Linked DNA regions of Homo sapiens. The protein of the gene in region 4 interacts with the protein of the main gene of each other region in a pairwise test. Each region holds a gene or a part of one and is shown on either strand. Other genes may lie near its edges. The genes, in order: KRT35, SNAP23, GRIPAP1 and TBC1D30.

Region 1 (8,337 bases), on a different chromosome or scaffold from region 4:
GGTTCATGGGGGTGTCTGATCAGGGGCTGCAGTATAGTTGTGGGGTTTCCATTTAGGTCTATCTTCTCGGGCTCTGAGTGGGAGGCGGTGGCAGGGTGATTTGAAGTATTTAATAACAAAGATGCCTCAGAGGCTGGCCAATGAGAACAGACACTGACCCAGTCTGGATGGGTGCGGCCATAGCTCTCAGCTTGGCCCTGCCTGTGAGTAGACACCTTAGGGCGGCCCCAGAAGAGGCAAAGGCTCCAGAGCCAGTCTTCATCCATAGCCCGACCTGGATTCGGTGGCTATCTCTCTTTTTCTTTCAGCTTCTCCTCTCTTGCCCAGCTGCTGTCACCCTGCTGCCTGATACTGGGGATGGTTAAGGAGAGGGGGTCCCAGGAACAAGCAGAGAGGGCCAAACACTAGGCAGCCATCCTCAGCCAGCCATGCCAGGGAGGGCAGTCAGGGAGAGCAGGGAGGTGAAGGTGGAGGGCAGGTGAATCCATGTCCCAACAAGGCACATAGGGCCAAACTGAAGGGTGCCAGGGACAGTGGGGTGGGGGTGGGTGCTCAGACATGGAGTCTGGGGAGAGGACAGCCAGGCTTCACTGTGGAGCAGAGTTCAGAGCCCTGGATTCCACTGGCTGAGTTAGGCAGGTCTGCAGGTGGGGCCTAACTCTGCCAGCTCTGGACACCCCTCTGATCAGAGAAGCATGGCCTGGGAGAGGTCTGAGGGCCTCACGGTTGGTTCCTTTGCCCCTGCTCCAGTCTTCACTTGAGAAAACAGGCCCAGAGAGGGCAGTGACTTGTTCCAGGCCACAGAGCAGTGAGTGGCAGAGACCTGGCCATCACCTGGCTATTCTGACCCTGGCTCTGGAGCTCTTCTCAGTACAATTTCTCTCTCTCTCTCTCTCTGTCTCGCTCTCTGTCTCTGTCTCTCTTCCCTCCTCCCCCTCTCTTGTGCTCACTCTCCTCTGGGCTCTCCTCTGGGTCATGGCCAAGACATCCATGACCTGGCTCTGCCTCATGTCATCAGCTACTTGCTGCTAAATGGGACTCTTCAATCACTTGCTGAGCAAGCCAGAGGTGCAGCAAACTTATCAGACAACAGGAGAAGACGTGCATAGGTAGCATCAGAGCATCCTGCACTGAGCCCGACTCTGCCACTCTGTGCTATATGCCCGGTTATGTCATGAGACCTCTCTGGTCTCAGCAGGTTCATCTGTGAAATGGGGCTGCCAGGAGGTTCTGATGAGACAGTGTGTGTGTAGCTTCCAAAAAGTGGTAGCTATCAGTGTTGCTCTTACTACAAATGCAGAGTCCCTGGCTTCAGAGTGTTGAACAGGAACCCCCACTGCATGGGCCAAGTGCTTTGCTTTGTATCTGGCAGGATGCTATGGTGAGGGCTGTGCTGCCAGCAGTGTCCTTGGAGCTGGAGAGTGAACCCAAAGGCCTCAGCCTCAGAGGATGCACCTAGCTTTGGGCAGGGGGGGCAGTTGGCATGGTTCTCTCACCTGCCCTGCCCCTTCCCTCTCACTGCTCCACTCATGCTCTAGGGCCTAAGTCTGCACCCCTGACCCTGGCCTGAGGCCAGTGTGTGACCAGGCGTGCACAGAGAGCATTGTACCTCTGTGCGGAAACAGGCAGGGGTCCAGGAATGGAACGAGTCTCCGGGAAACAGCTGAGCTGCCTTGTCACTGTGGATGAACCACACAGGGCATGACCTGATAAGTAATCACATCATCAGCACCTTGTGTTGTACAGTGCTTTCCCTTTTTATGATCACTCTCCAGTTTACAGGGCACACTCATAGCCTCATCTGATGCACGCAATCAGCCCTGTGTGGCTGTGAGCTCTTTATTTATTCATACTTGCCTAGCTTTTAATTACATTGTCCAGAGCATATGTATCAGTTAGGAAACACCTCCTATCTCAACCTCACACACACCCTTAACTGAGTTGCAATTGAAATCACTGACCAACAAGCAAACCAGAATTCAACAGTGTTGTGGGGGTAGGTGGCGACTGGTCTAAAGTCACACAGCAGGCGGCTGACTTAGGAGCCTTCTTAGGTCTTTGGGCTCCTATTTCATTGATATGGAGAGAGATATAGAAAACATTCAATAACATTTCCGCAGAGTGAATATGATGTTTTATTTCAAGGCGGTATGGTTTTTCTGATCCTTTTTGTACTTTCCAGATATGCTATCTGACTGCCTTTCTCATTCACATATACACATCAATTAATCAACAAAGAGATAACAACGGAACATGGCATACACAGCTAATCCAATCTTAAGGCTCAGGCCTATCTAGGAAGGAGCAGGGGTGGCGGAAGCGGCTGGAACAAAGAGTGGATAACAGGCACAATTCCCGAGGAGCTCACGTCCAGCTGTGGAGACACCTCGCCCCCTCGCTCCCAGCAACTGCACTGGGATAGCAGGAGCGGGTGTGGGCAGGGTTTCAAGTTTTGGGGAAGAGGAGAAATCACTGAGGGCTGGGGTGACCAGGAAAGGCTTTGGGGCAGATTTGGATTTGATGGGCAGAAAAAGGAGGAAGGAGGGCAAAGGGCATTTTAGGGCCGTATTTAGTGTATCCGTGGCATGATCTGGGGACAGCCTGGACCACATCTGAGCAGAGTGCAAGGATCCTGTAAGGAAAGTTACTAGGAATGTGCTAAACAATGTTAGTTCTTGCTGATAAGGGGTTCTAGATAATCATGTCATTTAAGAAAAGCATGCTAAAAAGGAACAGAAATAGATCAGACCAATTTACAAAATACCTTAAAACAGCTTGAAAAATATTACATATATGTTTTATAAAGTTATCTAAAAATCTTATCAAGAATTTTTTAGTCACAACTTTAGCACTAAATTGGTTTATGAGATCCATCTCCCTTGGGCAGAATGGCTTTTGGCCCAGAAAACACTTTGTTCTTGGCCAAAGGGGCTGGTTAGTCTGGACAGGTGCTGCTCACCTACACAGAGATGCCGGATCCCCTTCCATCTCTGAGTCTCAGTTTCCTCATTTACAAAAGTAGGAATAGTAGGCTGGGTGTGGTGGCTCATGCCTGTAATCCCAGCACTTTGGGAGGCTGAGGCAGGCAGATCACGAGGTCAGGAGATCGAGACCATCCTGGCTAACACGGTGAAACCCCGTCTCTACTAAAAATACAAAAAAAAAAAAAAAAAGAAAAATTAGCTGGGTGTGGTGGCGGGCACCTATAGTCCCAGCTACTCAGGAGGCTGAGGCAGGAGAATGGCGTGAACGCTGGAGGTGGGGCTTGCAGTGAGCTGAGATCGCACCACTGCACTCCAGCCTGGGCAACAGAGTGAGACTCCATCTCAAAAAAAAAAAAAAAAGAAGTAGGAATAGTTAAGATTGACTGTGTTTTCCTTTCCCCGCTCCCTACTCTCTTTTGTTTCCTCCCATTCTTTCTTTCCTTTCTTAACACAATTCACCGTGGGAAAAATCACTTAATTAATTAATTAATTCATAGACATCTAGAAGCCCTGCACTGTGCTTAACACTACAGAGATTTAAAAAAAAAGTACAAGGTCAATCCTTGCCCCCATGCTTACAGTCTCCCTGGGAAAATAGGGCTGAAACACAAGACAATCAGAAGACGTCAGTTAATTGGAGGCCAAGAAATCTACCAATAGTCACTGCCTTGGGCATTCAGAGCTGGGAGGGCACAGCAGGGCTGGAGCAGGGGCCAGACTTCGGGGGAAGGCCTGGCCAGGACTGGGCCCTTAGAGGCAGTGGGGTGGGCCTGTGGTTTGGAGCTGCAAGGCCTGGGCTTTAGCCTCCCTGGGAAGCCTGTGTGGACCTTGGGTAAGCCATTTTCTACTCTGACCATTGTCTCCTTCTGTAGGAGTCAGCACCTTTCTATCCACGACTGTGTTGGAGGGTGTGTGTGAGGCCTTAAAGAAGATAGCATGCCTTGAACAGTTGTACAGATGCTTTTTCAGCTGTGATCTGGGACAGGCTCCTGAAACAGTCCAAGCCTCCTCTATTTAATGGGCTATTGGTGATGCCAATCTCATGAGTTTGTGTGAGGACTGAATAAGAGAATGCATAGAGACAGATCAGCGTGGGGGCTGGTGGGTACTAAATGCTCAGTGAATGATGGTTGCTACCATCAGCCGGGTTATTGATAGGGCTGTGTGAAAAGAGCTCCAATTCAGGCAGCCAGAAGGAAGGGCTTCTCCATTTCTCAACCAGGGCTGGGGAAGACATGCCCTCCTAGATGTCATCATGGGCAGGTGTCCAATTAACTGATCTCTAGGCATTGTGGCTAGAACTTAGGCTCTACAACCTGCACAGACTTCCTGGCAAGGGAAAGAGTAGGGAAGTGTCCATCAGGGCTCTGCAGTATCTAGGGTGATAAGCTGTCCCATTTTACCGAGGACTGAGGTTTCCCTGGCATATGGAACTTTCGGAACTAAAGCCAGAAAATTCCTGGGGAAACCAAGAAAATTGGTCACCTTAGCCATATTTTCTGGGCCAATTCAAGAGCCTTCTGTGTCTCCCTGGCTGCAAGACCCCTGCCTTCCTGCACCAACCAAGTTTACCCTTCCATCTTCTGGGAGCACCCCAGAGACCTCCTCTACTCCCTCAGGCCAATAAAAGAAGTCAAAGTTGGAGAAAGTCAAGACAGTGGCTGAACTCCCATGCTTGCTTAATGCGGAGGCTGAGGTCTGGGCTCAAATGACAGGTCCCTTTGAAGAACTGACAGGGACTTGGTCTTCCCAGTGATGTGGGGTGGTGGAGATGAGTCTTGACATAGTAATGGGGCTCCTATTTTATGAGACTGGTAAATTTTCACAGGAAACTAAATAACAGGTTAATGAGGGGTTTTAATAGAAAGTGGTGTTAACTTTAATGAGGAGAAAACACTTTGTAAAGGCCAACCAATGCCCACTGGGGCAGAGATATAAATCTGGGGTAAGGAGCTGCTTCTCTGCTTTGGGGTGTCTGGCCTCAGAGACCTATCAATTGCATCTGAGTTGCAGGGGCCATGGCTTCCAAATGCCTCAAGGCCGGCTTCTCTTCTGGGTCTCTCAAGAGCCCAGGAGGGGCCAGTGGGGGCTCCACTCGTGTGTCCGCAATGTACTCCAGCAGCTCTTGCAAGCTTCCAAGTCTCTCCCCTGTGGCCAGAAGTTTCTCTGCCTGCTCAGTGGGTCTGGGCAGAAGCAGCTACAGGGCCACCAGCTGCCTCCCTGCTCTCTGCCTCCCTGCTGGAGGCTTCGCTACCAGCTACAGTGGGGGTGGGGGCTGGTTTGGGGAGGGCATCCTCACTGGCAATGAGAAGGAGACCATGCAATCCCTGAACGACCGCCTGGCCGGCTACCTGGAGAAGGTGCGTCAGCTGGAGCAGGAGAACGCCAGCCTGGAGAGCCGCATCCGTGAGTGGTGTGAGCAGCAGGTCCCCTACATGTGCCCTGACTACCAGTCCTACTTCCGGACCATCGAGGAGCTCCAGAAGAAGGTAAGAGGTTCAGAGTGGCTTTGGATTCCCAGGAACTTTGTGTCACCAGCATTCATTGGTAGTTCTGTTCCCATAGGGCATGTTGGAAGTCACCAAGCATGTTCATCTCTGTGGCCTCATTTGCTCCTCCCAATAACCTTAAGAGGGAGGTATCATTAGCCCATTATACAGTTGAGAACACTGAGATTCAGGCTGGGTAAGCGACCCAGATGGCAGTTACTGGAGCCAGAGCTTGAACATCAGGTCTATGAATGAACTCTGTGACCTTTGGTGGTATTGCCCAATCCTCTGAGTCTTCTGAGTTTTCATTTCCTCTTTTATTTAAAGTCAGGGGATTGGGTTTGATGTATTTAGTGCAGTGCAGTTCAGGCTTCCCATAAGTAACTCAGGGAAGAAAATGCCTGTCAGAGAAGTTTCTTTCTTGCCAAGGGCCCATATCCACTTCTCGCCTGGCCCAAAGTTATAGCTGGCTCCTGTGAGGGACCATTTATGACCAGAGAATCCCGGGGTATGTTGTTGGCAATGAAATGCCCTGGGCCCCCAGTAGGCCTGGGAGACAGGGAGATTGGAAGAAGCCTCATTTCATCATGCCAGGCCTTTCCTGTTGCATTTTCATGCAGCTATCTAACCTGAGTAACAGGTCACAGATACACTGCACTGGAAGAAACCCTGGACTTTCCATAGTTGATCCCTAGAGCCTGCCCATAACACTCCAATGCACATGGAGTAGCAGAGGTCTAGGATGGGTGACTTCCTCCTTCCAGAGTCAGCCCTTGTCAGCTTTAGGGAGCTCCAACAAGTGGAATGTCCTTTCTTGCAATGAAATAACTTCTTCATATCTCCAGACTCTATGCAGCAAGGCTGAGAATGCCAGGCTGGTGGTGGAGATTGACAATGCCAAATTGGCTGCAGATGACTTCAGGACCAAGTGAGTTGTCCTGCTTGTCATGTGGTTGGGGGCTGCTAGAACTGGACACAGGTGATGCCTGAGCTCAGGGTTTTGGCTGTACTCTGTCATTGGGGCATAAAAGCAGGACTCACAGCACCTGGACAGTCTGAGGGCAGGCCTGACTTAGATGCAAAAAGGAAATGCAGACTCAGGTGCCCTGTTCTATGCCTGCAGGTATGAGACGGAGGTGTCCCTGCGGCAGCTGGTGGAGTCAGACATCAACGGCCTGCGCAGGATCCTGGATGACCTGACCCTGTGCAAGTCTGACCTGGAGGCCCAGGTGGAGTCCCTGAAGGAGGAGCTGCTCTGCCTGAAGAAGAACCATGAGGAGGTGAGCATGGGGGAAAAGGTGAACACGGCACAGCAGGTGAGCATGGGGGAGGAGGTGAACATGGGGAGGAGGTGAGCATTGGGGATGAGGTGAGCATAGGGGGAGGTGAACATGAGGGAGCAGGTGTGCATAGGGAAGAGGAGGTGAGCATGGGGAGCAGGTGAGCATAGAGAGCAGGTGAGCATGCAGAGGAGGTGAGCATGGGGAGGAGGTGGGCATGGGGAGCAGATGAGCATGGGGAGGAGGTGAGCATTAGGAGGGGTGAGCATGGGGAGGAGGTGAACATGAGGAGGAGGTGAACCTTGGAGGCAGCCCTCTGGGAATTAGTACTCATCCTGGTCTGTGCTATAGGAAGTGAACTCACTGCGCTGCCAACTTGGTGACCGCCTCAATGTTGAGGTGGACGCTGCCCCACCTGTTGACCTGAACCGAGTTCTGGAGGAGATGAGGTGCCAGTATGAAACCCTGGTGGAGAATAACCGCCGGGATGCTGAAGACTGGTTGGACACCCAGGTAGGTACCTGGAAACAGTCAGTGCAACAGGGGTATGTGGTGGCTCACATGGAAGTGACCCTGGGGCTCTGAATCAAGAAATCTAACTTTGAGTCCCATCTCTGTTTTGACCTTGCTGACAAGGTCAAAACAGACCCACTTCAATTGACCTTGCTGACAAGGTCAAAACAGACCCACTTGGGCAGGTTGCTGTCCTCTGAGCAACAATGCCCTCCAGTATAAAATAAATGAGTGGGACTGGGGAATCGGGAATGTCTTTCTTGGCTCATGATTCTAACCGGCCTCTGTAGCTCTCTGAAGCCAAGTCCCTGGTGTGGCTGACCAGGTTCTGTGTGTGTATGTTTCAGAGTGAGGAGCTGAACCAGCAGGTGGTGTCCAGCTCAGAGCAGTTGCAGTCCTGCCAGGCAGAGATCATCGAGCTGAGACGCACGGTCAACGCCCTGGAGATTGAGCTGCAGGCTCAGCACAGCATGGTGAGCCCCAAGGCAGGGTGGAGCTGCCTCTGGACCAAGCCGAGGAGCACACAAGCTCCCCAGCTTCCATGCTTTGACCACACAGGCGGACTCCAGGGGTCCATGTTCTTGAGCACCAGGGGTTCTCTATGCAGAAAAGAGGGAATGAGGGACCAGCTCCAGTCACAAATCCCCCAGTGGTAAAGGACAAGAGACCTGTAGCAACTGACATGTCCAGGCAGTAGGTCCTATATTTGTGCAAGCAGATACATCTTCTGAGTAACTATCAGTTACTCAGAGATGACACTAACAGGGAGATACTTTCTAGATCAAAGAAGCCACAGGGGCTAATTAGCTCATCTCAAGTGAGATGTCTGATTGTGGTTCATCCTAGCTCAAACTCTGATTCTCCGAGCTTCTGTTCTTGGATTCTGAGGCCTCACTGAGACCCAGATTCCTTCCTTGCTCCTTCTCTGACCTCTAGCCTTTTTCCTCCCTACACAACTCTTGACCTCACAGAGAGATGCTTTGGAATCCACCCTGGCAGAGACGGAGGCCCGCTATAGCTCCAAGGAAGATTCCTTCCTTGCTCCTTCTCTGACCTCTAGCCTTTTTCCTC
Region 2 (7,481 bases), on a different chromosome or scaffold from region 4:
TCCAAAATATGTAGAAAAAAAAATCTGATCACAGGCCAAATTCATGATGCTATTCTATCTTTAAAAATTGCCAGCTCAGGCCGGGCACAGTGGCTCATGCCTATAATCCCAGCACTTTGGGAGGCCGAGGCAGGAGGATTTCTTGAGTACCGGAGCTCAAGACCAGCCCAGACAACATAGTGAGACTGTTTCCATTAAAGGAAAAAACAAAAAGAATTGCCAGCCTATCCTTCCCTTTAAAACAAAACAATGGCCGGGTGTGGTGGTTCAAGCCTATAATCCCAGCACTTTGGGAGGCTGAGGTGGGCGGATCACGAGGTCAGAAGTTTGAGACCAGCCTGCCCAACAAGGTGAAACCCCATCTCTACTAAAAATACAAAAATTAGCTGGGCGTGGTGGCACACACCTATAATCCCAGCTACTCAGGAGGCTGAGGCAGGAGAATCGCTTGAACACAGGAGGCAGAGGTTGCAATAAGCCGAGATCGCATCACTATACTCCAGCCTGGGCAATAGAGTGAGACTCCGTCTCAAAAAAAAAAAAAAAAAAAAAAGTAAGTTGATCACTACATTTTTAGTTATTTTCAGGCGCTCCTTAAGAGAAAATGTGTAAGGACTTCCAGTGTGATGTTGAAAGAAAAAGTTTTTTTAAAAAAGAGAATATTTGGATGGTGAAGTTCATGGGAATAAAAATTTAATGTAGGTAGAAATCTAAGTAAATTACAGATATTAGGAAATTGTTAAATAGAAGTCTAGCATTTCTCAAATACATAGTAGAGTATCTTTGTTACACTTAAGTAATATTAATAATTACCTAAAAAATAAAAATCATACAAATTGTTTTCACTTTAGTTTTCTGGTGAGTTAAAAAGAAAATAAAAACCAGCAATGGCACTAAGGAGCAAATGTGTTCTTTGATATTAATGGACTAGGAAGAGGCCAAAATGTCCCTAAGAAGGCTCTCTCACTCCTCCAATATGAAAACTGAAATAGAATTATTTACTTATTTTAGGTAAAACATTTACCTCATCAGTAATCTGGTGAGCTCTCTGTTGAATTTCTTCTGATGACAGATTATCCATGATGAATCAAAACTCTATTAGGCACAGAAATGGAAATGTGGATATTGTATAAGAATAAGGATATATAAAAGTTTGTGTGAGCAAAAAGTGTAGATTTATGGAATTTAGGAACTTATCAGGAAAACAGGATAAAAGAACCTCTTTCTATATCTATTAGTCTACCACAAGTAAAGAAATCAAGACCGAGAGAGGCTAAATGAATGTTTAATAAGAGTGCCAAGGGTGAACCTAAAATACAGGTTTTAGGACTTCTAGGGAAGTACTCTTTCCAACAGGAAAGTGGATCCTCTACTTAGAGAAGCAAGGCATTACTGGAAGACAAGCATTAAAAGACTATTAAAGTGAATTTTTGGTTGTTCAATGTTCTTCATGTGTTGTCTGAACATGGAAAAGCAGTAGGTGAAGAAAAGTCCAATTTAGTAAAGTAACAAAATTTGAAGTTATGTGCCTGAAGAACACAGGAAACATTTCTAAATATGCCAGTTGTCCAGGACACTCACTGGAGAAAATACTTTCACTCTTAACAAGAAAAGGGAAATGCTGGTACAAACAGCTCGGAAAAGACTAAGGTTTTTATTATGCATTAGACTCTTCCCCTCCAGTGGCTTATATTGTTTTGTTGTTTTACTGGAGTCCCTAAGAAACCAAACAATTATTCTCCTATACACAGTAACTCAGAAGGAGATCTCATAGACATCCAAGCTAAAAAATAAAACATTTCGTAGGTGTTACTCAGCACGGCTGTTATCTAATTCCTCTTTGAGAAGTCATGTGGAGTAATAACAAGCATTGTGCAACGGATCTAGGTTCTTTGTTACATTTGCTAGCTTTGTATGAATTTTCTCAAAACTCATTTATCAAAACTCACGGTCAATGACACAGATAAACTCTGGTTCTTATTACAGATTTGACCCCAGGAATCTGGCAATGTCTGGAGTTGCTTGATTGTCACAACTTGGGCCAGGTGATGGGGCTGGTTAATGGCATCTAGTAGGTAGAGGCAGGGAAACTGCTTAACATCCTACAACACTCTTCAGGAAAGCCCTCCAGCAAAGAATAATCTGACCCAAAATGTCAATTTGAGGTGAGAAACCTTGCCATGGATATACTCTTTGATAAGCAGAAAACTTAATTCCCCAAGAATGTACTGGACTGAATTCTTGGAAGGCAGAGATTTTATCTTTGTATCTCTAACACCTAATAGGATCTGATGGTAGATACTCCAAAAATAGCTGAATGAACAAATAAGTAGAAAAACAGGGTGTACTCTCAAAGTATTTACATGGCTCTTAGAAACAAAGCTGCATGTAACAGTAGCACAAAGCTCGCAAAGAATCACTAGAGCCACAAACCAAAAACTGCTATTGCAAGTGTATGATATGATCACATATAAATCTTTTCAGTCATTTTTGGCTGGGTGTGGTAGCTCATGACTGGAATCCTAGCACTTTGGGAGGCTGAGGTGAGTGGATGGCTTGAGCTCAGGAGTTGGAGTTCAGCCTGGGCAACATGGCAAAACCCCATCTCTACCAAATATACAAAAATTAGCCAGGCATGGTGGCGCACACCTGTAGTCCCAGCTACCGGGGAGGTTGGGGTGGGCGGATTGCTTGAGTCCAGGAGGTTGAGGCTGAAGTAAGTCAAGATCATGGCACTGCACTCCAGCCTGGGTGACAGAGCAAGACCCTATCTCAAAAAACAAACAAACAAAAAAATTTAAATCTTTTCAGTTGTTTTTAATTGAACCACTACTATCATGTTATTTTTTTTATTTTTTTGAGATGGAGTCTCACTCTGTTGCCCAGGCTGGAGTGCAGTGGTGTAACCCTGACTCACTGCACCTTCTGCCTCCTGGGTTCAAGCAATTCTCCTGCCTCAGCCTCCCAAGGAGCTGGGATTACAGGCATGCACCACCACGCCCCACTAATTTCTGTATTTTTAGTAGAGATGGGGTTTCACCATGTTGGCCAGGCTGATCTCGAACTCCAGACCTCAGGTGATCTATCCACCTCAGCCTCCCAAAGTGCCCAGATTGCAGGCCTGAGCCACCGTGCCTGGCCTTGTTTATAATTCTACTGTCATAGCTGTTTTATGGTTTAAGATTTTGAGGGCCAGGCGCAGTGGCTCACGCCTGTAATCCCAATACTTTGGGAGGCCGAGGCGGATGGATCACGGGGTTAGGAGATCGAGGCCAGCTTGATCGACATGGTGAAACCCCGTTTCTACTAAAAATACAAAAATTAGCCGGGAGTGGTGGTGAGCGCCTGTAATCCCAGCTACTCGGGAGGCTGAGGCAGGAGAATTGCTTGAACCTGGGAGGCAGAGGTTGCAGTGAGCCAAGACTGTGCCACTGCACTCCAGCCTGGGTGACAGAGCGAGACTCCATCTCAAAAAAAAAAAAAAAAAGATTTTGAGCCTTGATTAAAGCCATTAGTGCTCATGAAAAAAAGCATTTTAAGTTCCAAATTTAAGTTTCTATCTTGCTTGCCATAGACTGTGCTTCAGGCAAAAAGTTTCCACACTAAGATATAATCAAGATATAAAGATATCATTCATTAGATACAAGCATAAAAGGAACCAGGTATTTTATTAATTTGCTAATTGTTTGAGTCTTAAGCTTTATCATACATACACATGTCCATGCTACTGTTCCTCTTTTGTCACTCTTTCCTATTTGCAACTACAAAAAGTAAATGGAGATTATTTTTTGTACCCTCTCACCTCCACACTTTTGCACACCTTTCCTTTCTATAATACCCCACATCTGCCCAGGTAGCCTCATGCTTTTCCATCACTTCCTAAAGCCCCAACCGAGATACCTCTCCAAAGCCTGCCCTCCCCAGGCAGTAATGCTCTGAAGTTATCTATTCCTGTCATGTGTAACTCCTCAATGCCCGACAGAGAAGAAAATATGAAAAATAATATACACTAATCCATTAGTGCCTGGAAAAGGCACCCTTAGTGAGGTTTTCAGATATAGTATCCTGTGGGTCGGGAGACATTCTGGGGTAAGGAAGCCCAAATATCACAAATTATGTAATTTTGTAATTCTATTCCTAGAGGTGATTATTGCCAATTACAAGTCAGTCTTTGCTAGCTTCCTAGGAAAAAAAAAGCAAAACTCCAGAGTTAGGAGTGAATGCACTCCTGACCTCTGTGCTGCCTTCTTTAAAAGAAAAAAGAAAGCAGATATAACTGGGAGATGGATAACGTGAGGAATCACCCCTGACATCGCAATGAGGTCATTCTGAAGGACACATCCTTTCCATGTGAACTCGAAGTTCTGCTTAATATTTTTTTCTTCCCTGACCAGACAACACGCAAGACAAGTAACAGATATCTACTCCCAAGTTTGGCATGCTAACGCCAGGATGCAGCTGCCTAAGATTACTCTGTGTTCTTGAGGGTTTTGAGCACAAGTTTAGTGTGGCTGTCGCTCAGAGGGTTGGATTCAGTACTGCCTGTGGATACCAATTGGCCCTGAGGAACCTGCAGATATAAAAGTCCGCCCTCTGTAGACGGGAGTTTTGCATGTATGAATACCGTATTTTCTTTTCTTTCTTTCTTTCTTTTTTTTTTTTTTTGAGGCAAGGCTTCACTCTGTCATCCAGGTTGGAGAGCGGTGGTGCAATCAGGTTCACTACAGCCTTGCCCTCCCAGGCTCAAGCAATCCTCCCATTTAGCCCCCTGAATAGCTGGGACTACAGGTGCATGCATCATGCCCGGCTAATTTTTAAGCTGTTTTATAGAGACAGGGTCTCACTATGTTATCCAGGCTGGTCTCAAACTTCTGAAACTTTTGGGGTCAAGCAATCCTCCCACCTCAGCCTCCCAAAGTTCTGGAATTACAGGGATGAGCTACCGTACCTGGCTGAATACCATATTTTCTATCTGCATTTGGTTATAGATGTGGAACCTGCTGATACGGAGGGCTGATTGTATTTACTGAAAAAAAAATTTACCTATAAGTGGACCCACGCAGTTCAAGCCCATGTTGTTCAAGGGTCAACTGTATATGAAAGTAACAGAGTCAAAGTAGAATTGTAAGGGGAAGGACAAAGACAGACAAGGAATAATACTCCTCAAGTTCTTATTGGTCTTTGTAAGTTTGCTGAGACGAGTCAGAGAGAATGTAACCTATAATTAGCTACATAGCCTTACTCATATTTATTATTCTCTGCAGACATTTTCCTTACGGAATCAGGAAAAGGTTACCCAGAATATTACAGAAAAGAGAACTGGTGGGGTGGGATGAAAAATAAAACATCAGTTGATACAAAGATGCCATTAAACGTACTTTTCTCAGATTTAATCTAATCTATTAAATACTTGTGTCATTTTTCCAGTGCTGCTGGGAACTTATACTATGCTAATAGTGTGCCTTTCAGAGGAAAATGCAAGATTTTTCTCAGTGCTTTTACACCCTATTTCTCATGCTATGGTTCACTTGGGCTTACTAAAAGACTCCTAATTTGACCTTTTTCTTTTCTAATTTAAACCTAGGCAGGGAAAGAAAAGTTCACTGAGTACCTCTTAGGCACCAGATACCCTACTAAGTATTTATCTACATCATTATCTTCATTATACTATTTTACAGATGGAGAAACTAAGGCTCAGTTTAGGTAACTTACCCAAGGCGGCTGTGTCAGTAAAGAGCAGATTGATTATTCAAGTCGGGATCTACTCGCAAATTAAGTATAATTCATGGTCTGATAAAGAGTCTTTCTGGAGCTGGGAGTGGTGGCACACGTCTGTAATCCCAGTACTTTAGGAGGCCAAGGCAGGAGGACTGCTTGAGGCCAGGAATTCAAGACCAGCCTGGGCAACATAGTGAGACCCGTTCTCTACAAATAATCAAAAAATTAGCTGGGCATGGGGCGCATGCCTGTAGTCCCAGCTACTCAGGAGGCTGAGGCACAAGAATCACTTGAACCTGGGAGGCAGAGGGTACAGTGAGCCGAGATGGCATCACTGTGCTCTAGCCTGGGCAACAGACCAAGACCCTGTTTCCAAAAAAAAAAAAAAAGTTTTTTCTGTTGACTGTATCCACCGCCCCCTTAACAAACAATAGATCATATGAGAGCTGCTGAATATTGGAAAATAGGTCAAGCAATCCTATATGATGGCTCATTTCAAAATTTCAGATGCTTTCTATAAGACCATGAAATTTTATCTCTTCTACAGACTCAAAGAAGACAGTTAAATTGAAGGAGAAATAGACCACAGTAATCATGGTTTTCAACTGTCTTCTATTATTTCAGAAGCTGAAAATAATCTACATTAATTTAGAAAATGAAAAGAAGTCTATTGGCTAGGCACAGCGGCTCATGCCTGTAACTCTGGCACTTTTGAGGGCTGAGGTAGGAAAACGGCTTGAGGCTAGTTTGAGACCAGCCTAGGCAACACAACAAGACTCTGTCTCCACAAAAAGTAACAACAAAAATAGCCAGGTGTGGTGACCAGTGCCTGTAGTCCCAGCTACTTGGGAGACTGAGTTAGGAGGTTCACTTGAGCCTGGGAGTTCAGGGCTGCAGTGAGCCATGATCCCCACTACACTCCAGCCTGCCTGACAGAGCAAGACCCCAAAGAAAGAAAAGAAATGGGCCGGTCACAGTGGCTCACGCCTATAATCCCAGCACTTTGGGAGGCCGAGGTTGGCGGATCACAAGCTCAGGAGTTCAAGACCAGCCATTGCCAAAATGGTGAAACCCCATCTCTACTAAAAATACAAAAATTAGCCAGGTGTGGTGGTGGGCGCCTGTAGTCCCAGCTACTCGGGAGGCTGAGGCAGGAGAATCGTTTGAACCCGGGAGGGAGTGGTTGCAGTTAGTCGAGATCATGCCACTACACTCCAGCCTGAGTGACAAGAGCAAGACTCTGTCTCAAAAAAAATAAAAAAGAAAGAAAAAAAAAGAAAAGAAAAGAAAGAAGGAAAAGAAATGGAAGGGAGGGAGGGAGGAAGGGAGGAGATAAGAAAACAAGCAAGCAAGAGGCCAGGTGCGGTGGCTCACGCCTGTAATCCCAGCACTCTGGAAGGCCAAGGTGGGCAGATCACCTAAGGTCAGGAGTTCAAGACCAGCCTGGCCAACATGGTGAAACCCCGTCTCTACTAAAAATACAAAAATTAGCCAGGCGTGGTGATGCACACCTATAATCCCAGCTACTCAGGAGGCTGAGACAGGAGAGTTGATTGAACCCGAGAGGCAAAGGTCGCAGTGAGCCGAGATCATGCCACTGTACTTCAGCCTGGGCAACAGCAAGACTCCGTCTCAAAAAAAAAAAAAAAAAATGCAAGCAGAAAGGAAGTAAAAGAAAAGAGAAGAAAAGAAGAAAGGAAAAGTAAATGAGCTTCTTGGAAAGAAATACACAGAAAAAAGGCCCTGGAATTTAAATAAGGCCT
Region 3 (7,481 bases), on a different chromosome or scaffold from region 4:
CAGACATTTAAGGTTTTAAAAAAATCTTTGCTCATTTGTGGTTTTTAAAAAATGTACTACAATGAGCACATACTATTTGTGGAACAATAAAAAAGTTATTTCCAAAGGAAAGTGGCTGGTAAGGAGGCTGACATGACAGCCGGCAATAATAATTAGTGATCATTACAAGTTGGAAAAAGGGACCTTCTCCTTGGATGGTGCACCTACTATGAGCCACATAATTTATGGCACCAGAGAAGGGGGAATTAGCCCACAGATGATTAAACAGAAAGTCAGAGAGAGAGAATGACTGGCCTGTCCTGCATGTCGCAATCTGAATCCAAGTTGGTGGGCTTGGGGAAAAGTTGACAAGAAAATATGTGTGCTGCGCCCAAAGTAGGAGATGGGTTTAGGTGAGGAGAAAAGGGGAGGGGTTCTCAGATTTTTGGGTTGAGAGAAGCTGGAGCTGTAGGTTCTTCCTTTCCCCTTACCCTGGCTGGAACAGCCGAGCTCTCCTTTTCCCGCAAGATCTCCCGGTAGCTGAAGGAGGAGATGCTACTGCTGTCCCCTGTCTGGGTCCGGCTTGGTGAGTTCATCTCTGAGAGAACCAGCTCCTCAAGGCCTGGGTGGTGGAGGGAAGAGAAACTTGAGCCCCAATACCCCTGAGTCCCAGGGCAGCAACCAGCAGGAAGAGGCAGAAATAGATTTAACAGAGATGGAAAGAGAGACACCTGGGCATGGGGAAAGGCAGAAGCAGACAGGAGGACAGGGAGAGACAGAGACAGAAAAAAGAGCTGAGGCTGGGCGCACTGGCTCACACCTGTAATCCCAGCACTTTGGGAGGCTGAGGTGGGCTGATCACTTGATGTCAGGAGTTCGAGAACAGCCTGGCCAACATGAAGAAACCCCGTCTCTACTAAAAATACAAAAATTAGCCAGGTGTGGTTGTGTGTGCCTGTAATTCCAGCGATTCAGGAGGCTGAGGCAGGAGAATCGCTTGAACCCAAGGAGGCGGAGGTTACAGTGAGCCGAAATCGCACCATTGCACTCCAGCCTGGGTGACAGAGTGAGACTCTTGTCTCAAAAAAAAAAAAAAAAAAAACAGAAAGAAAAGAAAGAGCTGCCTTTCTGGAGAAACACATACAAAATGAGAGGGAGAAAATGGAAGAGGTTGGAGAAAGAGAACGACATGGGTACACATGGGTCTCAAGTGGCAGACACACTTGGACACAGGGTTCAGAGAAAGGAAGACAGCTAGAGAGGGCACAGGGCACATCCACTTGCAGAAAGAAAATGCCAGAGATGGAAAGCCAGAGCAGATGATAGAAACTGAGACCCTGGTGAAAGAAGTGAGCCAGAGCAGAGACAGAGAGAAAAAAAGATGCCGGGCGCGGTGGCTCACGCCTGTAATCCCAGCACTTTGGGAGGCCGAGGCGGGCAGATCACGAGGTCAGGAGATCGAGACCATCCTGGCTAAAACGGTGAAACCCCGTCTCTACTAAAAATACAAAAAATTAGGTGGGCGTGGTGGCGGGTGCCTGTAGTCCCAGCTACTTGGGAGGCTGAGGCAGGAGAATGGTGTGAACCCGGGAGGCGGAGGTTGCAGTGAGCCGAGATCGCGCCACTGCACTCCAGCCTGGGCGACAGAGCGAGACTCCGTCTAACAAAAAAAAAAAAAAAAAAAAAAAAGAAATGCAAGCAGGCTCTCGTACCCACGCACCTAAATCTCAGTTTAATCTAATGGACAAGGTGAATGTATTGAATGTATGGTATACGATTGTAACGTTTCCCAAGATTATTATTATTATTATTTTTTAGACAGAGTTTCAGTCTTGTCGCCCAGGCTGGAGTACAATGGCGCAATCTCGGCTCACTGCAACCCCTGCCTCCTGGGTTCAGGCAATTCTCCTGACTCAGCCTCCCGAAGTAGCTGGGATTACAGGCGCCCGCCACCACACCCAGCTAATTTTTTGTATTTTCAGTTGAGACGGGGTTTCACCGTGTTGGCCAGGCTGGTCTTGAACCCCTGACCTCAGGTGATCCACCCACCTTGGCCTCCCAAAGTGCTGGGATTACACCTTTCCCAAGATTCTTACATTCATCTGTGATAAAACAGAAACAAAACTCCTTTTTAAAGAAAGGTTACTTCAGGAGACCGAGTGCCTCAGAGAGAAATTGATTTGGTGAGAGATACACATCTGTTTTGCCACATCACTTAAAGCCCTCGAGGATCTCTGGCAAGGGTGGGGTGACTGAGTGGGGATCCGTAGGTATCCCGAGTGGGGGAATAAGGGACCAAGTTTTCTCTGAGTCTGTAATCTAAGAGATGCACCAGAGCCATCACTGCATTTTACTTACTTAAATGTATTTATAGGCCATCCCCGTCTTAAAAAAGGCTGAAGCAACTAAAGTTGTGTGTGTGTGTGTGTGTGTGTGTGTGTGTGTGTGTGTGTCTTCTGCTTGAAGTGGCAGAAATAACAGATTGGATTAGCTGTATAATGAAAACACCACAGCGTTGCTGACTATGTATAAGTCTGTCTCCGTAGCTCAACTGGGGGCTTCTAGAGGGCAGAGACTCAGGGAGTTTTATATCAGGGACCCTGTACTTGAGCAGGGAGATTTATAGAATGAGAGATTGTATACAATAGATTTAGAAATGCCAAGTGAGGTGTGGGAGTGTGTAATGTAGTACATACAGTGAGGAGACAGACAGAGATATAAACAGAAGAGACGAAGAGGACACAGAGTGGCGGGAAGAGATAAAGGGACAGAGAAAAGAAAGGGCGGGGGCCGGGCCCAGTGGCTCATGCCTATAATCCCAACACTTTGGGAGGCTGAGGCGGGCGGATCACCTGAGGTCGGGAGTTCGGGACCAGCCTGACCAACATGGAGAAACCCCGTCTCTACTAAAAATACAAAATTAGCTGGGCGTGGTGGTGCATGCCTGTAATCCCAGCTACTCAGGAGGCTGAGGCAGGAGAATTGCTTGAATCCAGGAGGCAGAGGTTGCGGTGAGCCGAGATCACACCATTGCACTCCAGCCTGGGCAACAAGAGCGAAACTCTGTCTCAAAAAAAAAAAAAGAGAGAGAAAAGGAGAAAACTAGAGAAAGAAAGCAAGGAGATAAAGGCAAACATAGAGGAAAGAGAGAGAACAAACTGAGACAGAGGCAGAGACAGAAACAGAGAAGAGACAGGGCAAAAACGAGAGAAAGATAGAAATAAAGAGAGAATGCAGAGAAAGAATCAGAGGAGAGACAGAGAAAAGGTAAAAGATGGAGTTCCAGAGCGACAGAAGCAGGAAAGCACAGCTGAGGAAGATGCAGGACTAACCTGCAGCCTGCAGGCCCAGGCCCTACCTCCCCCATGCCTCAGCCTCCTCTCCCTGTCCTAGTCCCTCACCTGAGCGGCTCTTGCTGTTAGTGAGGATGTCCTGCAGTCGCTCCTGCAGCTTATCTGCCCGTTTCCGCTCCAAATGCAGCTGCCGCTTGAGGTCCTTGAGCTGTGGGGGACAGGGGTAACATGAGGACTGAGGCCCAGTGGGCCCATAGGAGGGAGGCTACAGGTAGGAGGGAGCCGTGCTTGGGCACCGCTCTGTCTTACCGCAGCACTGCCCTTCTTCTCCAGGATCCTCTGCCCATCCACTGTGTCCTTCACCTCCTGTGGGAGAAAGCAGGCATGGCTGGTAGATGCCGGAAGGGCTGCCTGAAGCATGCTCCCTCCCTGCCCCTCCTGTACGCTGAGGATCAGGGGTGTGTCTGGGGCTGTGCAGTGACCACTGACCTGCTTCAGGCTGCTAATGGTCTTCAGGTGGCAGTCCCGCTCCTCCTGGGCCTGCTCGAGCTGATCCCGTACATCCTGTAGCTCCTCCTCCTTGCCCTGCAAAGCAGAAAGCAGCTTAGGCATTGGCTTGGGAAGCCTCTGTCCTCCCAGGAGGGCCCGTCACTGTCTGGAGAGAGGAACACCATCATGCGAGAGGCACCTTCAGCTCGGCAGCGTGCTGCTCCCGACACTGCTTGAGGGCTTCCTCTTGTTCCTGCTGCTGCTGCTGCAGGGATTCCTACAAGACAAGTCCCAGGTCTGGCCACAGCCCCCCAGAAGGTATCATGCCCAGTTAGGGGTATGAGGGACTGCAATGGGGGCCCAGAGGTATGCAGAAATGACCCTCCTGCAGGGAACCCCACACGCCCTTAGGCAATATGCTGAAGTGTCACATCTAAAGTTGCACCATTCGCATGGTTGACTTAGATTTGCATTTACATTTTATTTTATTTAACAAAACATAGCGCTTACTACATGCCAAGAATGTTCTAAGGGTTTTACATATATTAACTCATTTTCTATAATCCTCCCGTAATACCTAGATGGTAGATATTATTGTTACCCCCTTTTTACCATTGATGAAAACAGGCCACAGAGAGGTCAGATAACTTGCCCAAGGTCACACAGCTAGGAAATGGCCCAGCCAGGATTCAAACCTAGACAAACAACTGGCTCCAGCCTGTGCTCTTCACTGCTACATGACAATGCCTTTCAGTGTATTATGAGATTTCCAGAAAATGGCAACAAAGGTTCTTTTTCCGAGACAGAGTCTCACTCCGTCACCCAGGCTGGAGTACAGTACACGATATCAGCTCACTGCGACCTCTGCCTCCTGGGTTCAAGTGATTCTTCTGCCTCAGCCTCCTGAGTAGCTGGAATTACAGGCGCCAGCCACCATGCCCGGCTAATTTTTGTATTTTTAGTAGAGACAGGGTTTCACCATGTTGGCCAGGCTGGTCTTGAACTCCTGACCTCAAGTGATCCGCCCACCTCGGCCTTCCAAAGTGCTGAGATTACAGGCGTGAGCCACCGCACCCAGCAGGTTCTTGTTCAATAACATCAGTGTATTGCATTAATTTCCTGACAGAAGTACAGTTTCAGGAGAAAGAGGTGCCTTTCCAAATTTGCACAAAGGCAGGGCAGCCTTAACACGTGACAGTCTGTCCTATCTGATGGCCATCCCCTGATCCACTCCAGAGGGCTGCTATTGAGCCAGGGGACTGTGGGGATATCCCTAAGTCCAGAAAATCTCGGGAAGTTCCAGGGCCTGACCACTCCTGCTTCTGTGGTTTGACATGAGGGCCCCAATCAGCCTCTGTTCCTCACCAGGCATCACCAACTCACCTCGGCTTCCTTCAAGCGCCGTTCAAACCAGCCCTTGGCTCCATCCATGGAATGTACCTGAGCTTGAAGTTCTTCCACTGTCTGCTGGAGAGTCTCCAGCTCCCGTGTCCGGGCCTGGGATGGGGCAGACTGTCATGGGCCAGGAAGGCAGAGGAGCGGGCACCTGATGCATGCCACCCACTGGCCTATCAGCAACGCTGTGGTTCCCAGGTTTTAGAGGAAGAAGGGCATCATCATCTACCCACCCACCTTCTCCTCCCGGATCTGCCCACGGAGCTCCTCCTCCTGACGCTTCTTGTCTTCATGCAGCTCTCGGAGCTCACGCTCATAGCGGGCACGCACCCCCAGCACCTCCTTCTCATGCCGTAGACGAACTGCTCCCAGCTCTTCCTTGTGCTGGGACTTCTCTTGCAGCGTTTCCATTGCTAGCTCATCCAGCATGGCCTTCCGCTTCTCCGCACTCTGGGGGCCAGGACGATGGCAGTCAACTTCCTTCCACAACATCGAAAAAAGGCCTCCAACCCTCTTCCCATGCCCAAGGAACTAGCCAAACTCCACTCCCTCCCATCCCCACTGAACTGGCTAAGGCACTCACCCATCCTTATAGAACTGGTCACTTTCTTTCTTTCCCCTCCCACTCTCATGGATTTGGCCAAGAAACTGGTCAACCAGAAACCAGTCAATTTTCCTTTCCCTCCTATCCCCACATGTTTGGTTATATCACCTCCTCCCATCCCCATGGACTGAGCCAATTCCTACCCCCCATCCTCTCCCTTCAACCCTCATGTTCCCCTACCTTCCGAGCCTCCTGTAATTCCTGGGTCAACTGCTCCTTCTCCTGCCCTATTTCTTGAAGTTGTTCCAGCAGTCGACTATTGGCCCGTAATGACTCCTAATGCAGACACCAAAGGGAAAGAGTTTGATAAAGAGCATCCAGTAGGTGCTAGTCACCCAGGACCATCTGGTAGACCATCTCCCTTCTCCCTGGTAAAGTTGGTATTGTGATCTCAATTTCTGGATAGGAAATATAGCAGAGACTGCTAGTTGCTCCCCAGTATTCATTCTTCCTTACTTCCCTAGCAATAAAATTTATCATCGGGCATACAGCTGTCTAGCAGATGTTTCCCCTCCTCCCTTATGGTTAGGTGTGGCCATGTGATTTATTTCTGTATGTGGAAGTGGTGAGTGTAATTTAGGTTATGCTCTTAAAGGAAAGGGGCACACTCTTCCCTGCCCCTTTCCTCCTTCCTTCCAGATAGAATACAAACATGATGGTCGGGGAGTTTCAGCAACCGTCTTGGATGCCAAGATAAAAGTCTTGTGTTGAAGGTGGAGGAACAGCAATGGAGAAAGAACCTGGGTCACAGATGACTGGAAAGCCATCATTCCATCCCTGAATAACCTACCTGGACTTTTAATGAGAGGGAACTAAATTTGTATCTTATTTAATCTACTATTATTCTGGTTTCTATTATGGAATCAGAATGGATATTGCTTGGGAGGCTGAGCCGGGTAGATCTCCTGAGGTCAGGAGTTTGAGAAGCCTGACCAACATGGTAAAACCCCGTCTCTACTAAAAATACAAAATTAGCTGGGCGTGGTGCCAGGCGCCTGTAATCCCAGCTACTCCGGAGGCTGAGGCAGGAGAATCGCTTGAACCCAGGAGGCGGAGGTTGCAGTGAGCTGAGATCGCGCTACTGCACTCCAGCCTGGGCAACAGAGTGAGACTCCATCTCAAAAAAAAAAAAAAAAAAAAAAAAGGAGCCGGGCGTGGTGGCTCACGCCTGTAATACCAGCACTTCGGGAGGCCGAGGCGGGCAGATCACGAGGTCAGGAGATCGAAACCATCCTGGTTAACACGGTGAAACCCCGTCTCTACTAAAAATACAAAAAATTAGCTGGGCATGGTGGCAGGCGCCTATAGTCCCAGCTACTCGGGAGGCTGAGGCAGGAGAATGGCGAGAACACGGGAGGCGGAGCTTGCAGTGAGCCGAGATCACGCCACTGCACTCCAGACTAGGTGACAGAGCAAGACTCCATCTCAAAAAAAAATTAAATTAAATTAAAATTTAAAAAATGAAAAAGAATTGATATCCTAACTAACTGAAGAGGCTCAGTTTCAGAGAAGTGAAATGACTTGTCCCAGAACACACAGGTGCTAATAAGTTAGGGAGCCAGACTGGAACCTAGGTCCTCCTGACTCCAGTCTTCCCACTCCACCTTACTGGGGACTTCACTGGGCCATTACTAGGGAACTAGGAAGAGACAGGCCAGAGCCAAAGGTGTTACCTGGAGCTGGGAGTTGAGGTCATCTTTCTGTCCCATAAGGTCCTCGTA
Region 4 (7,667 bases):
TTTTTGGAGACTATAACAAGTTATATCAAAAATACTAGTAAAAGCTTGATTCTACTGAATCATCACAATTTTTTTTAAAGTATGTATCTTTACTAAATTTTAGTCAATTTTGCCAAAAGGTAAGCATATTGATTCTTAAAATAGGAAAATACCCTACAGCAATAGAAAGTGCCTTACTACATATGACGGTGGTTTACATAGATGCCTGGAGTACCACAAAAGCAAAAACAAAAACAAAAAATGACACCACAGGCTTGGAGTCATACAGTCCTCCATTCGACTTGGTTCCTAGACTGAAACAATTTATCTAACCTATCTCAGTCTCAATTCCTTTTCTTCTTTTTAAGAGATACAGTCTCAATATATCACCCAGGCTGAAGTATAGTGGCTATTCACAGGCACAATCATAGCACAATGCAGCCTTGGATTCCTGGGCTTAAGCAATCCTCCCACCTCAGCCTCCCAAATAGCTGGGATTATAGGCACGTGCTACCACGCACAGCTAATTTTTGTATTTTTTGTAGAACAGGGTTTCGTCATGTTGGTCAGGCTGATCTGAAACTCCTGATCTGAAGTGATCCACCTGCCTCAGCCTCCTAAAGTGCTAGGATTACAGACATGAGCCACGGCACCCGGCCCCATTTTTTAAAGGAATTATTGCCCAAAAGTTCAAGGACCAAGAAATGCCAAATACTATCAATAACATTAAGTTTTACAAATTTCAAAAGTCAAATGATGGCATTTTTGTTTCTAAGATTGTTGATTGTAGATTAGGTGTACTAAAAACTTCTCCACAACTTCCACTTCTTAGTGGTTGGTATGAATAGGAGCAATCTTCAGAATTTATGAAATAATAGTAAGTAATCAAGTAGACTGGTCTTTTAAAAAATATATATATACACGGAGTCAAGAAGCTGGAAAGAGATGTATCTGATTTTTGCAAGCCCATATCAGTATGCAGGTGTTCTTGGAACCCTGGAAGAGCGCTGTAAATTCCTGAGTTGGGTCCTAGGTTTCCAAAGTAAGCTGTGGCAGAGAATCCCAGGCATCCAATCAATGCCTTGATATTTCTTTTTAAAGCTTCAGGGCCATAACCATACTCTGCCTGGATAGATAAGTTTTTTTTTTCTCCGAAGGAATATTAAGTACCACATGGATCCGCCTCTCTCTGAGGTGGTTTAAACGAAGTCCTGCCCAAACATAGAACGGTGATAACAACGGCCACGGGAGTGTTTCCAGCCCAGCGCACGCTTTAAGGCACGCTGAAAACAAGTGAGGTTGCTGTCCGGACGCGAGGTGCTGAATGGAGGAGCGTATAATCATGACGTTTGCTTGATAACAAAGACCAGGAAATTCGGTCCCGCGCTGACTTATTCTTGCCACACTACAAGGATTCCCTGTATGTCTGACCAATATGCTCTTCTGACTTTTCCGGGGCACCTGCTGGGCATCATGCCGATTGCCTTCTCATAGTGAAACCCAGCAGGGGTTAGTTGGCCAAAACCACAACTATCCTCTCATGATCAAAAATGAGCAAGAGGATTTAACTGAAATTGATTCGCCGCCTGCATGCAAAAGCTTAAACCAGGTCACTTTCACCCCACTTTTCTTTTCTTCTAACAGAATACGGGCAGAGAGAAGGTTTATGTTTCATCTGATAATCACAGCTATTCCGGATTCAGAAATACAAAACACTTACTTTTAACGTGGGAAGGAGATTTAAAAGAAAAAAAAAAGAGGTAAAGGAAGATGGTGAATAAATACTACAGCCTCTGCAACTAGACACTTCCTAGGGGAGAACAACAAAGAAACCACGAGGTTGGGAAAGGCAGTGCCGCATCCCACCCTTTGGGACTCTGCAGCTCGATTCTCCTGCGGCTCTACAGCAGGTCCCCAAGGCGCTGGCGCTGGGGGGCGGGGGCCGGGGACCGTGAACCCGCCTGGAACGCAGCCGGTGCCACTCCAGGGAACAGGTGAGCGCCAAGCACCAGTGAGAGTACAGCCAACTCCCTCTGCAGCCACTCCTTGCCAGAAACCTCCGTGCCCAGGAGCCCGCGCTAGGGCCAGGCTCTTAAAATCCCGGGGAGGGATGCCGGGTGATGGAGCCGACACGGAGTTATGCAGTCTGGAGAAGCAGGGATGGGTAAACACAGGCTGACAGTGGGAAGGGCCTTGCCTAGCACGACCAGGCTCGTTCCTGGACCTCACCTATGAAAAGGATCTCCTGCTGCTCCCCACTCGCACTCACAAATTACAGGCTCCAGTTCGAGCTGACCCCGGCACTCACGCTGAAGGGACTCTTGGGAAAATAACACCCGATTTTGCCTTTGCAGCCACTGTCTTCCTCCTCCGACCTGCAGTGTCAAACCTGTGCCACTCTCCGCCCCCACACACCTCTCGCAAGGTCTGGCTTCCTGCGAGCCTGGAACACAATAGGTGGTGCGGCCTCTGAGGGCCCGGGCAGCCACCCGCACTTCCCCGCCACGCGGAGAAAGCCGAGCACACAGGCCGCAGGGTGGGGGTCCGCGGGGAGAGGGTGGAAGCAGCGGGTTCTCCGCGCCTGGGGTGGCCGCTGCCCCACCCAGGCCCCCGTCTGCCCTCTACCCTTCCAGACCAATCGCTCCCTGCAGGTGCCAACGCGGTGCCCCGCACCAGGTGGCACGCGGACTTTCCCCAGAGCTCCCCGGCCTAGACGGAGTCAGGCTAAGGCAGAAGCGCGGGCAGCCCCGGCGCTACTTTACAGCGCCCCATCTGCAGCCCTGGGGTCCTCACCCGGCTCCAGGGTGCACAGCAGCCGGGGCGCGGTCCGGGAAATGCAGCTGCGCTTCTTGAGCACATTGCTCAGGATGGTGCCCACGCCGCCGCCCTGCCGCTTCAGGCATCTCCCCCCGCGCCTCAGAGACCCGGTCAGCTTGTCCTGCCGCATCCGAGAGCGCCCCGGGCTCTGGCACGGCTACCGTCCGTCTCGGTCCCCGCTACCCCACTCGCTGAGCGGCTGAGCTCGCGGAGCTGGGTGAGTGTCTGCGGCTGACCGGCCCGTGGGAGCAGGGAGCGCACAGCCGGCTGGTGCTGGAGGGTCACGGGGACTTACGGGGCACCGCGGGAGCCGCCGAGCGCAGGGAAGCCAGCAGGCATCTGCAGTGCGGAGCCTGCAAGGCTGAGGCAGGAGATCGCTCGAGGCGGGGAGGGCGGGAGCGAGCGAGCGAGCGAGCGCGTGGGAGACGGAGGCGGCGTGCCCGCCCCCAATCCCGGCACCGCCGTGCGCAGGCGGGGCCGCCCCAGCTCCCCCGTGCCCAGAAGCGCCAGAGACAGGGAGCCAGTGGGCGCGTAACTGCGTTCGGGGACCAAAAGCAGAAACAGAGATGTCCGTGCTTCTCCCAAGATCTGGGAGGGAACAGAGGGAGCACCAAGGGGCGCCAGTCTCAGGGGCAGAACACCCGTAAGGGCAAGCATCCTCTCCCACTTCCGAGCAGTCTCAGAAGGGGCCATGACCCAACCGCAGGCGGCGAGGCACACGCTTCAGCCCGAATTGCGTTGAATTATTTCCTGGCAGATTAGAGAGGCGCGGAGAAAATGAAGGAAAAAAAAATTATTGTTTCTTTTAGAAAAATGGGCTTCCAGAAAAAAAGTGTTCTCTTTTCAAGCAGTATTAAAAAGTAATGTTCCTCATCTCTCCAGCCAGACTTCAGTAGTTCTGAACTATTGCCCATCATTATGGTTTAAAAAAAAAAAAGTCATTCTCAAACGGCAATATTCACCAATAGACTATTTACCATTAAAATGGATGAAAGAAAGGGTGTGGGGGGGGGATATAAAGATACTTGTGTTTGCTAATATTTATAAAAAGAAACACTAAATGGATAAACCAAAAACAAATTAGAAAACTTGTATAGGAGAAGGAACATCGTGGAGGAGACAAGAATGGAAAACTGAGTCCTCTCTTGATGTGCCTCCTGTAGTTTTGGCTCTGGAATAACACTATATTAATAATATTAACAAATTAAATTTTTAAAAAACCAGGATGATGGAACAGCATGCCTATAGTCCCAGCTACTTGGCAGGCTGAGGTGGGAAAATTGCTTAGCCCCAAGAGTTTGAGGCCAGCTTGGGCAACATAGCGAGACCCCATCTCTTAAAAAGACATAAAAATAAAAATAAAATTTGAAAATACATAAAATAGTCTGGGCACGGTGGCTCACACCTGTATTCCTAGCACTTTGGGAAGTCAAGGCAGGAGGATGTCTTGAAACTAGGAGTTCAAAGCTGCAGTGAGCTATGATTGCACCCCTGCATTCTAGCCTGAGCAACAGACCTAGTCCCTGACTATAAATGAATAAATTATTTTTAAATTGTAAAAGAAAACCCTAACAATTGAAAATTAATGGAAACAAATCAACCTAATGGACTATCCCACTTATAGCATAAGAACACAGAAAAAAATAATTCTCTCTTAAGTTGACATAGAACACAATATTATGACTGTACATCAACAGTTGTACATATTCCCAGAGCAAATAAAACTGCAAAGAAACCTTACATTTCATTCAGTAGTATTATTGTTATTAATAATATTCATATTTCTTAAATTCTTATATCCACTACAGGATAAAGCAAATAAATAAGTATGCTAACATCAAATGGAGCCAAGATGTTTTCAGTGTAATAGAAAATATGTGTATAACCAAAGTAATTAAGTTTTCTTTAAAATATTACAATTATATATTTATATGGGAAACACTAGTATGAACTCATTTTTTTTTCTTTTCAAAAAAATACATACATTCATTGAATAGGTTTAGAAGTAAGGACAACTCAGCAGCAATGAACACCCACAGCACCCAGGTTATGGTCTCTAAAAACCATTCCCCACTCAAAGGAACTAAGGCTCCTTTGAGGAGTGACTGATTCCAGGTTTGGGACAGAAAAAGTACAAGATGACCCTGAAACATTTTGATGAGCTCAAAAAGAAAGGAAATGTTTCACAATTAATGGGGTCAAGTCAAAAAGACACAAGAGTCACATAAATAGGCTCCTTCCTATTGGCCAAAGATGAAACAATTTGAACTTGAAAAACAATGGCTGAGCCTGGACAACATGGCAAACCCCCATCTCTACAAAAAAAAAAAAAAAGCTACAAAAATTAGCTGGGCATGATGGCACACACCTGTAGGCCCAGCTACTCAGGAGGCTGAGGTGGGAGGATCACCTGAGGCCAGGGAGGTCAAGGCTGCAATGAGCCATTATCGCACCACTGTACTCCAGCCTGGGTGATGGTGAGACCCTGCCTCAGAAGTAAAAACAAAAACAAAAAGCAATTAATTGCTGGGTCAGGTGCTGTGGCTCAGGTCTGTAATCCCAGTGCTTTGGGAGGCCAAGGTGGGACAATCACTTGAGGCCAGTAGTTCAAGACTAGTCTGGGCAAAATAGCAAGACCCTGTTTCTGCAAAAATAAAATAACTTAGCCAGGTGTGGTAGTGTATGCCTGTAGTCCTAGCTACTTGAGAGGCTGAGGCAGGAGGATCACTTGAACCCAGGAATTCAAGGTTACAGTGAGCTATGATTGGCCACTGCACTCCAGCCTGGGTGAGAGAGCAAGACCCTGTATCAAAAGAAAAAAAAATGGCTGCTATTGATTGAAAAAATATTGAATATTTTTAAATGCCTTCATAAAGATAGCCTAAACAAGCCAGAAAAAGAAGGCATTCCTATGACGCTTCCCAGAATTTGAGGACAATGTCAGAAATGGTGCAACCCTAAGAATGAGCTGTAAAAGAATCTATTAAAAATGAGATGAGCCATCTGCAAAAGTAAAGCAGGCTAATAAAGGACATGCAAGCTATTCAGTTGTAGCTGCCTGGCAGAGGTAAAGATGCTTTCAAAAGGGCAGTACTCTTTGAAAAGGCATCACTTTAGAAAATGAAGTCACTGTTTAAGCTGGTCATGACTAATTGCTTGGCTTAAATTTCCCAACCTTTTGCTGCGAGCTCCGGTACAGAAATTTATCCTCCATCAACCATCAACTTTTTACAGTTTTGGTACATGTTTGTATCCTTCAGCTTTGTATTAATTTTAATAAGACACTCATTGGCTGTTGCAGCCTATCTCAGTTGTACTGAGAGCCATAGGAAGAGGTCTGATGCTTCCCTTTGACCAGTTTTTTAGAGGGCACAGTATACCCTGGGGCTGAAGATGGTGATGAACACCCGAAGTCAAAGAGAGGGAACTGGCAGGAGAGGGAAAATCCAGCAGGACAAGTTGGTAACTGCATGCACAGTCTCGTCTTCCAGACCTCTCATATGCTCAAATCTTAGAGGGTTTTGTGTTCTATTTTAACAAGAGAGGCTATTCATGCTCGGTTTCCATCACTAGGCAAGCCAAGAGGACAAGCAATCAGCTCTGTTCTACAACACTGTCTCTGGAGTGGAGAGGAGGACGTCCTGCCCCTGGGGCTGTGACATATGCCACTCAGACCATCCAACTCCCTTTGGCTCTGACGTCATGCTCACCAAGCAAACTTTGGATTGTCATTTGATTTCCCATATAGACTCTGCTGCAGCACAGAGAATATACTGACCAGTTAATAGCAGTCAATACCCCTGAGTTCACTTACCAGTCAGTAACCTGAAGACACCAAATTTCCAGACTGCCAAAGCTGACATCTAGACTCTAGGCTGTCAACTCACCCATGTGTCATGACTGATAAAAAGACCTCTCTTTAGATTCTTCTTTACTTGTAATACTTTTCTTTACTAGTAGTGACAGAAGCTTGTTTGCTTGCAAAAGGAACATTCAATTTCACCTCTTTTAGATCTATTACGAGGAAAATCTAACTCTGTTTTTAAAATAAAATTTAAGAGTTTCTGCTATGATGGCAATAAACAGCAAAGGAATTAGATAATATTATTTTGTTTACATTGGAGAGGAAAGTCAGGACTGCCAACTTTTATAGCAAACAGATAATTACATGAGCACTAAAACACAATACTCTAAAAGCAGCGATGGCCCAAGCCTAGTATTATGTTGATTGTGTGACTCACAGTTTTTTATTTCATGTCTGGAATATTGTTTTACAAACGTGAAAGATGTCATCTAAAGTCAACTTACAGAGAACTCAAGCCAGCATGGACTTTGCCTGAGAATCTCAGGAGCCAGGCCAATTTACCATTATTCTTTACTAATCAAGCTTTACCAATCAAATAATAGTGAATTCACATTTGGGCAAATTATACACTGCCACAGTCTACAATGGTTATGACTTATGCTGAATTTAGGGGAAGGAAGGCTTAATGAACACTTCACATTGGATGAGATAATGTTATTTGGATTGCTAAAGAAAATGAAGGCTTTGAGGAAATGCCCCGAATGTCACAGAGCTAATAACCTGAGGACATCCCCCACAGATGTGAGCTCCCAGGCTGAAACAAAAAAAAGTATGGACCATTCGGCATACCCTGCATCTTCAGGCCTACATGCTGGGAATGAGGTTTCCTTGAGAGCGAACTTTTCCTTTAATGGGAGAAGGGGGAAGAAGTCAGTAAGAAAAGAAAGCCCAACACAAGGAATAAAAACTATGTCCCAAGGGGCTTCCAGAAGGGGAAGTGGGTCTGAGACCTGTGATTTCCTAATGCTGCTATTTTTTTTGTTTAACAGTAAAGTCTTAAAATAAA

Evidence for each region.
Region 1: the proteins of TBC1D30 (region 4) and KRT35 interact in binary tests that used the Homo sapiens proteins (3 or more experiments, as listed by UniProt).
Region 2: the proteins of TBC1D30 (region 4) and SNAP23 interact in a two-hybrid assay, tested with the Homo sapiens proteins (one study listed by IntAct).
Region 3: the proteins of TBC1D30 (region 4) and GRIPAP1 interact in binary tests that used the Homo sapiens proteins (3 or more experiments, as listed by UniProt).

The regions. Positions count from the first base shown.
Region 1 is NC_000017.11:41,477,763-41,486,099, reverse strand, and holds the start of KRT35 (keratin, type I cuticular Ha5), read left to right. Parts: upstream 1-4,948; 5' UTR 4,949-5,002; coding exon 5,003-5,473; intron 5,474-6,318; coding exon 6,319-6,401; intron 6,402-6,596; coding exon 6,597-6,753; intron 6,754-7,104; coding exon 7,105-7,266; intron 7,267-7,613; coding exon 7,614-7,739; intron 7,740-8,337.
Region 2 is NC_000015.10:42,505,447-42,512,927, reverse strand, and holds part of SNAP23 (synaptosomal-associated protein 23), read right to left. Parts: intron 1,096-7,481; 5' UTR 1,082-1,095; coding exon 1,025-1,081; intron 1-1,024. UniProt on the Homo sapiens protein: Essential component of the high affinity receptor for the general membrane fusion machinery and an important regulator of transport vesicle docking and fusion.
Region 3 is NC_000023.11:48,977,835-48,985,315, forward strand, and holds part of GRIPAP1 (GRIP1-associated protein 1), read right to left. Parts: coding exon 7,434-7,481; intron 6,037-7,433; coding exon 5,941-6,036; intron 5,607-5,940; coding exon 5,394-5,606; intron 5,259-5,393; coding exon 5,145-5,258; intron 4,039-5,144; coding exon 3,961-4,038; intron 3,858-3,960; coding exon 3,762-3,857; intron 3,639-3,761; coding exon 3,582-3,638; intron 3,481-3,581; coding exon 3,381-3,480; intron 602-3,380; coding exon 471-601; intron 1-470. UniProt on the Homo sapiens protein: Regulates the endosomal recycling back to the neuronal plasma membrane, possibly by connecting early and late recycling endosomal domains and promoting segregation of recycling endosomes from early endosomal membranes.
Region 4 is NC_000012.12:64,820,139-64,827,805, reverse strand, and holds the start of TBC1D30 (TBC1 domain family member 30), read right to left. Parts: upstream 3,160-7,667; 5' UTR 2,927-3,159; coding exon 2,773-2,926; intron 1-2,772. UniProt on the Homo sapiens protein: May act as a GTPase-activating protein for Rab family protein(s).